Linked DNA regions of Homo sapiens. The protein of the gene in region 2 interacts with the protein of the main gene of each other region in a pairwise test. Each region holds a gene or a part of one and is shown on either strand. Other genes may lie near its edges.

Region 1 (3,456 bases), on a different chromosome or scaffold from region 2:
TTCCAGCTCTGGGATTTCTTGAATCCTTGCTGCATTCATCAGAAAGGAACCCTGTGTAATTTTGTTGCTTCTTACTTTTAGCCAGGGGTGCTAGCAGTGTCACAGTAGTTATCATTGTCCACACAATTGATACTTTGTGAAGTCATATCGCACTTGCACATTTTACATCAAATGCATGGTGAAAACCATTTTGAACTGGGGTGACAGAAATAGGAAAGTCTGGAGGAGCTGATTTGAAGGGGTAGGAGGTAGGAATGAAGATAGTGGGTAGGATATTGGCAAGATTCAGGTCCTAGATGCTAAATTGGCTGGAAAATTCAACTTTTACTTTTTTAACAGAACCATTTCAATATGAAGTCATGTTTGAAAAAATGATTTTAATTTGTAAAGGGTTATTTTAAGTTCATTACAAACAATAAATCATGGATGGATTCATTGTTAGCACATTATATAAATGTTATACTTAAGGTGTTTTGTTTTGTTTTGTTTTGTTTCCCTTAAATAGGAACAAGAATGGTAAGTCCGGCATCCTTAAGAAAACTCCTGGAATCTTGTAAAGATCTTTCTTTACTTGATGTGTCCTTCTGTTCGCAGATTGATAACAGAGCTGTGCTAGAACTGAATGCAAGCTTTCCAAAAGTGTTCATAAAAAAGAGCTTTACTCAGTGACTTAATATATGTTCTGTATTAAAATTAATGTGCTTTGTTGGGGTTTAATTTTGGGATTGGTTTTGGGTTTTGTTTTTAGTTGTTTTAATGGTAAGAATTAAGACATTTGTAGATTTTAAAGAAAAATATGAAATTGTCCATTAAATCAAGTAAAAATGTGCACAAATGTTTTCATAAAATACTGCAAGCACTTCTCTTCAAGAATATGAGTGGATATTATTTTTACCTTATGTTAATCAGTGATATGCTTTAGTCAATAATATGATTGATAAAAGAATAACATGGAATCATGCTAACTTATTTTCAAAGGAACACTGAGCAATAAAGTATCGTGGCATTTATGCAAAAAAAAAAGTTAATTTTTTACACCTTCATGTAAGGATGTCTTATTAAGCCTGTGACCTGGCAAGTGTTTTGTTTGGTATGTACAAAATGGTCAGAGCTAGTTGGAGAATGAGACATGCTTTTCCAGCTGTTTGGTTATTTCTCTGGATTAACTGTTCAACTGGAAAATTTTTAGTTTTTCTAGCCAGGTGTGGTGGCACACACTTGTAGTCCTAGCGACACAGGAGGTGGAGGCAGGAGGATTACTTGAGATGGGATTTTGAGACTCTAGTGTACTTATGATTGCACCTGTGAGCAGCCACTGCACTCCAACCTGGGCAATATAGCAAGTCCCTTTCTCTTAAAAAAAATTGTAGTGTTTCCACTTTTCTTCTGATATTTTTGTCTATTTCACTACTGGATAATGCCAATATAAAAATTTGGGTATAATCAAGAATAAGAGGTAAACTACTAAATAAAAAAAGCTTTCCAACTGTTAGAAGCAGATGCCTTAACATTTTGTGAAAGGTAAAGTTTTGAGGTTTCTGAATTATATAAAAAAACATAAATGTGGAGATATATATTATATATACACATTATATATACATATTATAGATAATATATATCCACATTTATGATTTTTAATATATACATGTATATATTATATATTATATAATTATATATTACATTTATATTATATGTAATGTACATGTATATATTATATACATATATATAATTATATATATTATATAGAGAGAGATATATATCTTGCTAGGGTGTGTGGATGCTGGAATATAACGATTTTGCACTTAACAGGACAATGAATTTTGTTATACTACAGTTAATATTAGTTTTGTGTTCAAAACAGCTGTGCCTTTTCATGCCACAAAATATTTTCTGTCTACTTTCTGAGTAGCAGAATTAATTCATTTTTTTAACAAAACGATGTATGTCAAGTGTTCAGTAGTCACATGAGGAGAATGCTTCCTTTGTGCCTGGCACTGTTTCTTGTGCTTTGCATTGACTAATTCAATTCTCACAACAACCCTGTAAGATAAATGCCATTACTTACCCCCATTTACAGATGAGGAAACTGAGGCAAAGAAAGATTGAAGAATTTATTTATGATCATACAGCTGCTAGTGGCAGAGCCAACATATAAACCCAGGCCATCTGGCTTCTGAAGCATTGCATTAAACCTGTGCTTTTAGGTGTTCAGGGTAGCTTCTGGCTCTAGGGCAGAGGTCAGGAAACTTTTTCTATAAAGGGCCAGATAGTAAATATTTTAGGCTTTGTGGGCTAAGAGGTAAAACTGAGATTGTTATGTAGATACTTAAATAACTAGAGAGAAATAAAATTTGCACGAAAATTTTATTGACAAAATTCAAAACAATAATTTAGAACAATTTTTTTTGTAATACGGGTTTACTAATGAAAAGAATTAAATATTTACAGGGAGGATCAAAGTTAATGTTTCGTGTCATTAAAGTTGATTGTAAGTACTCATTTGTTAATGCTGATCTGTAATAAGATTTTATGTATTTTACTTCTGAAAATTCCTTGCAGATAGGTATTGTCAAATACTTACATTAATCCATGAGAATATGATTTTTGTTGAGCATATTCATCACTTGAAAGGTTACTTCTTCTCTGGATATTTTCCTTTTAGCATGTTATTACATTGCAGCTTAATCACTTCCAATTGAAGACTAGGCAGAAGCTCCTCAATTGCACTGTTAAATTGATTTTGAAAAATGGAAATTTCCTTTACATTTGCAAACTCCAAAAAATACTGCAGGCACTATGGTGTGAGCTACAAATTTGTGTGAGAGTGGAGATCTCGCTTCTTTGTCTTACCTTTTGATAGCACAGGAAATGTGTAAAGCAGCTTGTTGTTACTTGTAATTCAAACAATGTTGTCATCAAAATGACTTATGTTTTGCTTGTAAACACGTTTTGCCTTGTAATTTTGGCTTGAATTCATTTCAAAATTTTATTAAGTCTTGAGCAAAAGCTAAATTCCAAAGCCATTCAGTGTTCCATAATAGTGATTGAGGACATGTCTTCTTTTTCAGAAAAATGTCAATATCAGCCCTGAACGCAAAAGCTCACAATAGAACTAACACTATTATGCCAATGTGGTTGGGCAAATCAGCATATTCATCTTCTGTATCTGACAAAAGATAACTGAACCATTGATGTTTAATCTATCAGAAACTATGAGAGCAAATGAAGTTCACCATTGCTACCAGTAGTTCAGTAATACAAAATTGAATCAAATATATCCCACAAAGTACCTGCTGATGAATAATACAGTAAATAACCATAGATTTTAAATACCTTCTTACCTTTTCACAGGCTTTATAAATTTGACAAACGTAATCATTTTGCTTCACACATTTTTAACACCACCAGTTGTAACACATCTTAGCAGATTCTACTTCAGGTTGCATGAAATTTGTG
Region 2 (3,936 bases):
CCACCCCCTTCCCCACTGTCCAGTCCTCTTGGTAGTACCAGGGCTACTGTAGACCCAGGTGGAGATGTTGGCACCAGCACTCATCAGGTACTGCACATCTAGACTGGCCTCAATCCCGGCCCGGCCCCGGCCCTGTTGTCCAACCACACGGGCTACTGATGCCTGATGTGCAAAGTTGCCACCGAAGAGGCGCATGAACTGAGCCAGGTCTGAGTCATGGAAATACTGCTCCAGGAACTATGGAGGGAGTCAGAGCAGAGATCGTGGGTCCGAGGGTGAGTCCCAGGGTGGTAAGGAATTGAGGACACTGTGGGGAGGCTATGAGGACCCTGGGGCTCTTTGCTTGGCTCACCTGGGCACAGGCTTGGCTGTTATTGCTGGTGCCAGAGCCCACGTCTTGTGAGGTCAAGTTGTATCGCTTACGGATCACAGAGGGGGTTACCCCCAGATGCAGGCCTACAGTCCCTGTCACCTGCGGCTCAGGACGTTGCCTCAGGGATGATGTTGGGGGAAAACGGTGCAGTCCCCCCACTGTAGGGAGAAGTCAGGCTTGAGGAGATCTTATAGACTGTAATGCCCACCTTACAACTCACCCCACCCCCAGTCCCCAATGGCATCTAAACTTCCTCAGCCCCTGGATCTGTGTGCCCCAACCCCCATTCACCCCATAGGTGTTACCAAAGTCCACATGGGGGGCCAAGGCCTGTGGAAGCTGGTAGGGATGTGGGGACCTTACAACATGGGTTTCCGTAGGTCCTCCCACATAGTGATGAAACTCAGCCCCAGGGAGCAGCAGCTCTGCTTGTCTGGAGGTCAGAGAACAGAGGTCAGAAAGCTCAAAACGGAACAGAAGAAGCTACCTCTGAGCATCCCTGGGCAGTCAGTCACTGTCTCCCCATGCATTAGCTCCCACCCACAAGCCCCAGCAAGCTCTCAACTCCCTCCCATCCATCTCACTGATGGGATGACTGGTGCCCTCCATGGAGCAATCATTTCCTCTCACCGGATGCTCAGCCAGCAAGTCAGAAAGTCCTGTGTGATCACAGAATGGCACTTCTGGGCTCCGGCTGCCAAGAGCCATTTTTGCACCGTGTGGAGGGTCAGTGGGGATGGCCTCACCAGATCAGCCACATTCTCTAGGGTCAGGTATTTTCCTGCAGGGATTCAGAAGAGGCACTTGCCCTCATTCATTGCTTTCCCAAACTCCCCCTTTTGGACCTCAACTATGAGACATCAGGACTTCCCAAAGCCTGGAACAGGGTAAAGGAGGGCTATGTGTGCAGGTGTAGGGTGTACTTGGGAAGCAGAGGAAGAAAAGGCTGGAGAGACTTGAAATGCCATGGCCAATAATATGGATTTACCCTAAAGGCCAGTAAGTTGCAAATGTCGCACCACAGCATGTATTGCCATGATCATGAAAATGAATGAGGTTAATACATATAAATTTTCCATTTTAATTTTAAGCTTATGTCCGGTAAATGTTTTCAAATCTTTCGGTACCAGTTATTCAGTTTAGCTCAAATTTGCATACTTGTTGATTTTAAGCTTAACACGATGGTGAGTCACTGTTTCCTGCCATGCACACTAGTGTCACACTGCCCCGTCCCCAGCCTCTGCAGTTCACAAGCACACACTCCCCCTGCTGTGAAGGGCTTTAACCAGGAGAAGGAACCAATCCATTTTGACTGTTGGAGAGACTGTTTTGAAGCAGAGTGGGGGAGTACAGTGAGGGGTGGGGTGGAGGGAGGAGACTGCAGATCAGCTGGGGAGCTGGGCAGTAGTCCAGGAGTGGGAATAAATAACGGAGTTGGTCGTAACAAAAGACGGCAAGAAGGAGATTAATCCAAAGGCTCTTTGGGAGTTAGAACTGGCAGCCTTAGTATGTGAACAAAAGAGGAAATTAGAATGGATTTGAGGGTAGGGGAAGGAACGTAAGTTGTACTAGATGCCTGGTAGCTAGTAAGTAGCAGAGTCAGAATTTGAGTTCGTATTTGATCATAAAGCCTGTATACTGAACCACATCCCCTTTTAGGTTTCTAGCCTGAGGAACACAAGTGTCTTGGCAGGCTCTGACATGATCGCCATCCCATGCCCAACCCAGCCCTGTGTCCCTCCACCGCATCCCACATCCTGTCCTCAGTCCCAAAAGGCACCGTATTGAGGAGAGCTGGGATCCGACACAGCCTGCACCAGCTCCGAGAGTCTTTCCACATTCTGCTGTCTCAGGGCAAAGGTGAGACTCAGCTCTTCCTCAGGGTCCGCACGGCCCAGGGACACCCAGCCTGGGGGCAGCCTGTAGGGTCAGGGGTCAGGGACATGGCTTTGGTTAGGGTGGAGATGGAAAATATTGGTCATGGAAGGTTCCAGATTAGGAGCTGAGACCTTGGGGAGGATCCTAGGAGCAGATACAGATCACATGAGGTGAATGATAGGGGACTGAGGCTAGGAACATAGAGATGAAGCTATGGAGTGCGTACTAGGAGCTGGCACGGGGGTGAGAGAAGCTAGGACCAGGACAGTGGGAGGCAGAACAGGGTATGGGGAAGGGGGCAGTCTGTGCTAAGTCAACTCACGTCCTCCGCTGGTCGGGCTCCGGGCTGTAACTGCATTTGCCAGAGAGGATGAGGGCAAAGAGCCCTAGGAGGCTGTAGGGGCAGCAGGTGGGTTTCAGTGGGAGCTACGTTGTCCTTGTGTTCCCACCCTCCCAATGTGTGCTCCCTCCAACGTGATCCCTTTCTCCCGAGCCCTCTCAATTTCTCACCAGGCTTGGAGTCCCATTCTGCCCTTCCGCGGATCTGCTGTCATGTGACGGATCACATGAGCTCTATATTCCACCACCACTACCCCTCTGCCTAGTAACTAGTGACGGTACTGGCTCCTCCCTTGCATGGGTGGTCCCAAATGCTAGGCAAGGGTGGGGCCGCCACCCGGATTCTCCCCTCTGGCCAGTCAAGCACTGAGTAAGCCCAGGGCTCCCCACCTGCGTCCTGAGCCTGGTCCCCTGGGAATCACCACAAGTGAGTGGGCTGTAGAGACCCACAGACTGGGGTTCTTCCTAGCTGTATGACATCAGCAAAATAACCTCTCAGAGCCTAGGTTTCTGCATTTACAATATGGAGACTTATATAAAAGTGATCTGCCTCGAAAGATTGCAGTGAAAAAATTTTTTTCCTCTTTTATCCTTTATGTCCCCATATTATCAATTTTGTCTTCATTTTACGACTACATTTATGAACAGAGTAAAGCTTTTGCAAGACCAGGATCCTTTTATTCAAATCAGTTTCCAGTTTTAAGTAGCTTCCCAGGAGATCTACAATCAGCTGGGGTCCTGTTTATTATGGGTTCCCAAGGTTTTCAAGGAAATCAACTTTGTTCTAAGGGCCATGGAGGAATCTTGCATCTTGTTTAGTGGGCTCAGGTGGATAAAATGGAAACGGACCTTTGCTTCTTCTAATGGTAACTCAAAGCCCACAAGGAGGTCTGAGTTTACTACTTCCAACTGGGGTCATTACAAGAGGATTTTCAATGAGAGTTAAAACCCTGAGGATTCAATTCCCTTCCAGTCTTCCTTTTTTTCCCCCCAAAAATCCATATGGAAGATGGTGTCAGCAGTGTCATTTTAACTTCCAAAACCATTAATCCAATACTCATGTGAAATCCCTTGTTCTGACCTCAATACTTTTTAGATAGATCCCTCTACTCCTGCTGTTGTCCTACAGGCCACTGGCTTCCATTAACCTATAGATTATATTCCCACACTGAAGATTATGGCACTTCACCTTTCTGTCCATCCCAACTCCTGCGATCATTTGACCTAGATGATCAAAATATCTAGGTAAAAGACCCATTCAACACCCTAACCTTCCATTTCTTCATCTCATTAAACCCAGTGAGCATTACCTTCACTTCACTTAAGCAAACCAGTCCCATGGCTGC
Region 3 (2,523 bases), on a different chromosome or scaffold from region 2:
AGAGGTCGCAGTGAGCCGAGATTGCACCATTGCACTCCAGCCTGGGTGACAGAGTGTCTCGAAAAAAAAAAATAATAAAATGGGACCTCCACACTGTGGAGGCCCTTGCCAGTCTAGAGTGGTGCTTCTTTGCAGGGACTTGGAAACAACCCCCCAAACACAGCATCCCCTCACACCTGCCACCCACTTCCTTACCGGCTGCTGTGGGAGCCTCTATCCTGAACTATGGAGGGGCGGGGTGGAAATTTTATATAAGGACCTTGTTAAGGCCAAGAAAGTCAGTTTAATCTTATAATATAAATATATCATTTAGTCACCTCAGCTTATCCCCAGAGGTGTTTACACAATTCCCAATGACCAGTGCAGCTTGGAAGGGACTGAGGCTCGCAAGTGGGTGGCACAGTCGGCTCTTCAGTGGCTCCAAAGTGAGCCCCTCACAACAGGAGACACTTCAGAGAGGTCTGTCCCCAGCCACGCACTCATGATTGCTTTTTAGCAGAAGTCATGGTCGCTGAGGCCCTGGGTTTGGCAAAAGCACAGCTGCCAGCAGAGCACAGTTCTGGTAGGTGGGGCCACGGCTGACCTGGCCCCAGAGCTACAGGAACAGGCAGGGGCCAGCTTGGCTTGCAACACCATGAAACAAGCCTGTGGGGCCCTTAGTGTCTTCTCCCGCAGAGCCCACCAGAAACACTTCTGTGAGTAACAGAACCTGGAAGGAAAAGGGGCAGGGGTGGGGCCTTGGTGGCACCGCACAGGACGTGCCCCAGGCTTCCTCTCCAGCTGCACTGCCACGTGCGGCCAACAAGAGCCCCGCAGCCCTGGGGTGCTGAGGCTTGGTCCTTCCCAGCTTCTGCAAATGCCCTGGCACTGCCCTCCAATTCAGAGGGTATAAACATCAATCCAAGCCCTGTTCCTCTTTCCAACATGGGGGGGACTTGGAGTGCCGCTGGAGGGAAGGGGGCAGTCTCTCTGGAAGAACCAGAGCTGCACCCTTCACCACTGGAGTGATCACAGCTTCAGGCTCTACCTGGCTGGCTTTTCTCATGAAGGATCCCGTCTCATCTCCCAGATCAAAAAGACCCTCTTCTAATGCTGTCCCAGCATCTACCAACAGGCTGACCTGAGCTGCCCGTGTCCCCCGTTCCTGTAGCCTGAGACCTATCAGATGTCATCTTCCACGGAGCCACTGTGCTCGCTAAGGAGGTACCACTTCAGCCTGTCGGGCAGAGGCAGGGCTTTGACCTTCACATCCACAGGCCACGGCTGAAGGTAGAGCCGGATGGCCACACGGCACAGGTGCTTGAGGGGCGGGGGATAGCTCTCCAGCTGCCTCAAGGAGAAGTGGAGGGCCTGGATCTTTTCCGCCAGGCTGCCCACAGGGTGGATATCGAAGTTTTCGGGCAGCTGGAGTTTCTGAGAGTTGGTCACCATGAGATCCAGGACAGTCTCAGCTTTGCGCAGGAGGTCCGCATGGCTCTCGTCTTCCGTGCAGCCTGGGTGGGAACAGAGCCTCTCAAAGATGATGTGAAAGCCAGACCAGCAGGACGCACCGTGCAGGGAGCAGTTGTAGGCGGCTCCGGACTCCAGGAGGAAGCGCAGGAGAGGGAAGTGCAGTTTAAAGCTCTTCAGGCAGATGTGGGTGAGGGACTCGTGGGCTGGGCACTCGCTGGGGTCGGCCCCGTGTGCCAGCAGCAGCCGTGTGACTTGGAAGCAGAAGCGGTTGATCATCTGGGCCTCCTCTTTGTCCCCTCCCACGGTCTCACCAAGCAGGAAGATGATGCAGGTGAACACTGTGTCCCCATCTTTGGTGGTGGCCTTGACGTCTGCCCCTAGAAGAGCCATAGAACAAGAGATGCTGGGAGAAGGCCTTCAACCCTGGCAAAGCAACAGCACACATCGAAGGGGCGGGTGAGAGGACGAGGCCTAGGAGCGCGCCAGCCTCACCTCCTTCCAGTAAGAGACGAATGTTCTCAGTATTGTGGATCTGCACCCCGTCGCTGCTGGCCAGAGCATGGAGCAGAGCAGTTTTTCCTAGGGAGGGAGGGAGAGCAAGGAGGAGCAGGAGGCCAGGAAGCCCAGGTCAGGGCAACCCAGAGGAGGTGGCAGAAATCCAGACACTCAGAGGATCAGAAGATGAACTTTCAGAGACAACTCTCAGCTCAGGTGAGGGCTGAGGGTGACAGGCTTCTGGCCATTCCCTTTCCACCCAGAGAAGTGGGAGCGGAAAGGCCAGGAAAGGTAGGATTTTTCTGGACCCCAAGATGCTACCTGAGATGTTGGCTGGGCCTCTCCCAATGGGAAGCCATTGTTTCTTGGAAACTAAGTGCACACATGCCCTATTTCTTCCTATAGAAGGCCCTTGAGGGCCAGCACAGGGACAATGACTGCACTGCCTCTCTGAAGCCTCTGAGCTCAGCAAGTCAGCAGAATCCCTGTGTGCCCAGCCATGCTGTGCCACCAGCCAGGGCCAGCATCCAGTCTGCCCACCTAGCTGTTGTCCTGGGGCACCCTGGGTGTCCCCCA
Region 4 (3,500 bases), on a different chromosome or scaffold from region 2:
CACCTTCCCCCAGTGTTGTCTTACATCGCTGTAGTACTTGGGCTAAACCAAGAAACAGATGCTGGTATAGTTCAAATAAACGCAGATACAGTCTTATGTGATTTTACCAGTTTTTACATGCACTCTGTGTGTGTGTGTGTGTACCTGTATGTCTACAGTTCTATGCAACGTATCACATGTGCAGGCTGGAGTGATGACCATCACCATCAGAATAGAGAATAGTCACCACCACAGTTCCCTGTGCTCCTCCTCTGATAATCACACCCATCCTGACAACCACTGATCTGTTCTCTATCACTGTAATTTTTTTTTTTTTTTGCTTGTTGAGACAGGGTCTCGCTCTGTCACCCAGGCTGGGGGTGCAATGGCAAAATCATGGCTTACTGCAGCCTCAAACTCCTGGGCTCAAGCAGTCTTCCCATCTCAGCCTCTCAAGTAGCTGAGACCACAGGTGCACGCCCACATATCCCGCTAGTTTTGTAAATTTTTGTAGAGATGCGGGTCTCCCTGTGTTACCCTGGCTGGTCTCGAACTCCTGGGCACTCCTGCCTCAGCCTCCCAAAGTGCTGGGATTACAAGCATGAGCCACCGTGCATGGCCTATCACTGTGATTTTGTCAGTCCAAGAACGTTCTCTAAATGGAATCATGTAGCATATAACTCTTTGAGATTGGCTTTCAGCATAATGCCCTTGTGATCCATTTGAATTGTATGTAAAGAGCACATGCCTTTTTATTGCTGAATAGTATTTCAAGGTGTGGATGTACCAGTGTGTTACCCACTAACTTGCTGAAAAACATTTGGCTATTTTCCAGTTTTTAGGTATTACAAATAAAGCTGCTATAAATGTTCATGTAAAGTTTATTGCGTGAACATAAGTTTTCATTTCTCTTGTGTAAATACCCATGAGTAGGATTGCTGGATCACGTGGTAAGTATATGTTTAACTTTTATAAGAAACTGCCAAACAGTTTCCTAGAGTGGCTGTACCATTTTACATTCCTACAGGCAATGTAGGAGAGATCCAGTGTCCCCACATGTTTGCCAGCATTTGGTAACCTCAGTATTTTTTATTTAAGCCATCTACTAGATGTGTCGGGCTCCTTTTGATGGGCCACAGTCAAGAAGGCAGTTAAGCTCTGTGGCCTTCTGAGCTTAGCTGGGGTGACCTCAGATGTCTCTCATTGCTCCAGTTTTCCTGGTAGCTGTCTACACAGCAGTTTGGGCTGTCTGGCACTTAGGCGATGGAAAATGGGATGGTCTTTCTGGATGGGGGGGCTGAGTCTTTGGGTTTGCCCAGTTGCTCCTGACTGCAGTGGTGGGACATTGCTATCTGGGGATGCTGGGCCTCTTTGAGGCAGTGCCTCTTGGCCCAGCAGGAAGACTTGATACCAGTGGTACATGCTCCCATGGGGTAGGGCAGGTGAAATGACAGCTGTGGGGCAGGAACAGAGTTTGCCTGGGCCAGGGTCTTCCTGTAGCTTTGGCCAGAGGCTGTGTGAATACTTTTAATTTCTCAGGTTAGATCGTTATCAGCATAGTGTGAGAGGAAGTGGGACATGGAATCAATGTAGAGAGGCAAGGGTGGGACCACCAGTAGCACTTGTCAAATCTTGGGACCCACTGAACAATCTTTGCCCTTGAACTTTGTACTCTGTGACCACCCAAGACTCTCCAGCAGCATGTGGACACCTTGTCTGGATGCCATGGAACTCCTATTTTTGTCTCCTGTGGGTGAGATTTGGAAGCACTGCTGTCACCACCACATGGGCTTTCCTGGCCCAGGGGTCCAGGTCTCGTGAGCAATTAGAATGTCATCTGAGTATCAGAGGTGCTTCACTCAAGAAAGTTGTGCAGGACAACAAGGTGATGGGTTTTACATAAGGCAAACATTATAGTGAAGACTTGAACCGGCCCAGGCATTCTTGGAAAGTCACCCTCCATCTGATTCAAGGTACCTCTGGTTCAAGGGAGGTTGTAGACTTTTCCAGAACTCTTACTCATCATGACCCTGGAGCCATGAGTTTGGACTAGGAGGCCAAGAATCAGGAGAGTAGTGATCCTGAACAGGGATAACCTTGAGATAATGGAGACTTGCATGGGGCAGTGAAGCTTGGGGATCATCAACAAAATTCCCTGGTGGCTAAGCCCTGGGAGGATCCTGTGGAGGAGCTCCTTTGGGTTCTGGCTCTTGTGTGTCACCAGGTGCCTTTGCAGGGGATCAGCATAGATGTAGGCATGGAGGAAACTAAAGTTGATTTCAAGAACCTGAACGTGAACTGGGGCGGGTAGGGAGCTGAGCAGTCTGTCCAGGCAGAACTTGAAAGTCAAGTGATGCCTTGGTGGGCTCTGGAAATTGAGGTGGTGGGATGAGAGGAAGCCGGGCAGTCAGACACTGTCAGGTGATCAGTGGGTGTGGGTTGATGGGTTTCAGCAGGGTTATGCAGGCAGGATGAATAGTCAGACTTCCTCTTAGAGGATGGTGAGAGTTTAAAGAAAATGGTTTTTTGTTGCTATAATTGTTTTTTCCATTGTTTCCTAAATTTCCATTTTCAGGTTCCTCCTGCTCTGGCCTGCCGCCTCTCAGGCTGTGCTCCTACTCTCCTGCTGTCAGAAGGCAGCCCAGCACACAGCACCTTTCAGATTTAAAAAGGCAGGCACGGCTTGGGGCAGGTACCTCCCCTGACTGTGAGGTCACACAGTGGGACTCCATCCTTGAGGCCAAATCCTCAGCAGTTCCCCTCTAGCTCTTGCTTGTCTTCCTTTCAACTCATCCCTGCCTTGACCTCAAATTTGCCCACATATTTTAGTCTGGCACTTGCCCTGACCCTGCTCCGCTGTCTTGGTTTCTGACCCCAGATCCCACCTCCTACTCTGCTCTTGTGATGCTGATCACATGGATGCTGCCTGCACGGCTGCCCTCTGTCCTCCTGGGTCCAGCTTCTTCAGTGCTACCACCTCAGGGATCAGGGCACACCACAGTCTGGCCCCATTAGGTGACCAAGATGGGCACGTGGGCCCCTTGCTAGGTCTAGGCTGCCCAAGAGTGTCTTGAAGTACGGGCATGCCTATCTGAGGGCAGGTAAGAGCTCCTTGGCTGAGGCAGGGCGTTGCCTCAGGAGTGAATCTTCTCATTGGCGCCTTTTGTCTCTTACCTAAAGGTTGGGTGACTCTGGGCCCTTTGTCTAGTTCAACCTTTGCCATTAAATCTCTGAGTGACCACCAGGAAGTAAATGAACCATTATGGGCCTCAGTGATTTCATGTGTACAATATGGTTTCTTGATTCCCTAGCTAATAATCTTTTTACTACATCATATTACAGTTAAAGGAAAATCTAAAAATCAGAAGCCAAAAAAAGACTTTAAGTTAAATTCTGGCATAGACATACTAGCTCAGAGTTTCCTAATTTTTTTTGTCTAATAAATGTTTGCCAACTGAATATTTGTTGAACTGAATGCAGCATGTCAATAGTTCTCAGGCATTAATGCAGAAGAATTGGGA

The links. Proteins that work in one complex are often made in the same cells at the same time.
Region 1: the proteins of TPP1 (region 2) and FBXL4 interact in binary tests that used the Homo sapiens proteins (3 or more experiments, as listed by UniProt).
Region 3: the proteins of TPP1 (region 2) and ASB6 interact in binary tests that used the Homo sapiens proteins (3 or more experiments, as listed by UniProt).
Region 4: the proteins of TPP1 (region 2) and ZBTB38 interact in binary tests that used the Homo sapiens proteins (3 or more experiments, as listed by UniProt).

The regions. Positions count from the first base shown.
Region 1 is NC_000006.12:98,871,491-98,874,946, reverse strand, and holds part of FBXL4 (F-box/LRR-repeat protein 4), read left to right. Parts: intron 1-505; coding exon 506-669; 3' UTR 670-3,456. UniProt on the Homo sapiens protein: Substrate-recognition component of the mitochondria-localized SCF-FBXL4 ubiquitin E3 ligase complex that plays a role in the restriction of mitophagy by controlling the degradation of BNIP3 and NIX mitophagy receptors.
Region 2 is NC_000011.10:6,616,623-6,620,558, forward strand, and holds the start of TPP1 (tripeptidyl-peptidase 1 preproprotein), read right to left. Parts: upstream 2,801-3,936; 5' UTR 2,779-2,800; coding exon 2,762-2,778; intron 2,646-2,761; coding exon 2,574-2,645; intron 2,294-2,573; coding exon 2,154-2,293; intron 1,155-2,153; coding exon 1,004-1,154; intron 807-1,003; coding exon 679-806; intron 532-678; coding exon 353-531; intron 238-352; coding exon 39-237; intron 1-38. UniProt on the Homo sapiens protein: Lysosomal serine protease with tripeptidyl-peptidase I activity. May act as a non-specific lysosomal peptidase which generates tripeptides from the breakdown products produced by lysosomal proteinases. Requires substrates with an unsubstituted N-terminus.
Region 3 is NC_000009.12:129,636,629-129,639,151, forward strand, and holds part of ASB6 (ankyrin repeat and SOCS box protein 6), read right to left. Parts: intron 2,032-2,523; coding exon 1,945-2,031; intron 1,830-1,944; coding exon 1,162-1,829; 3' UTR 1-1,161. UniProt on the Homo sapiens protein: Probable substrate-recognition component of a SCF-like ECS (Elongin-Cullin-SOCS-box protein) E3 ubiquitin-protein ligase complex which mediates the ubiquitination and subsequent proteasomal degradation of target proteins.
Region 4 is NC_000003.12:141,375,004-141,378,503, reverse strand, and holds part of ZBTB38 (zinc finger and BTB domain-containing protein 38), read right to left. Parts: intron 1-3,500. UniProt on the Homo sapiens protein: Transcriptional regulator with bimodal DNA-binding specificity. Binds with a higher affinity to methylated CpG dinucleotides in the consensus sequence 5'-CGCG-3' but can also bind to E-box elements (5'-CACGTG-3').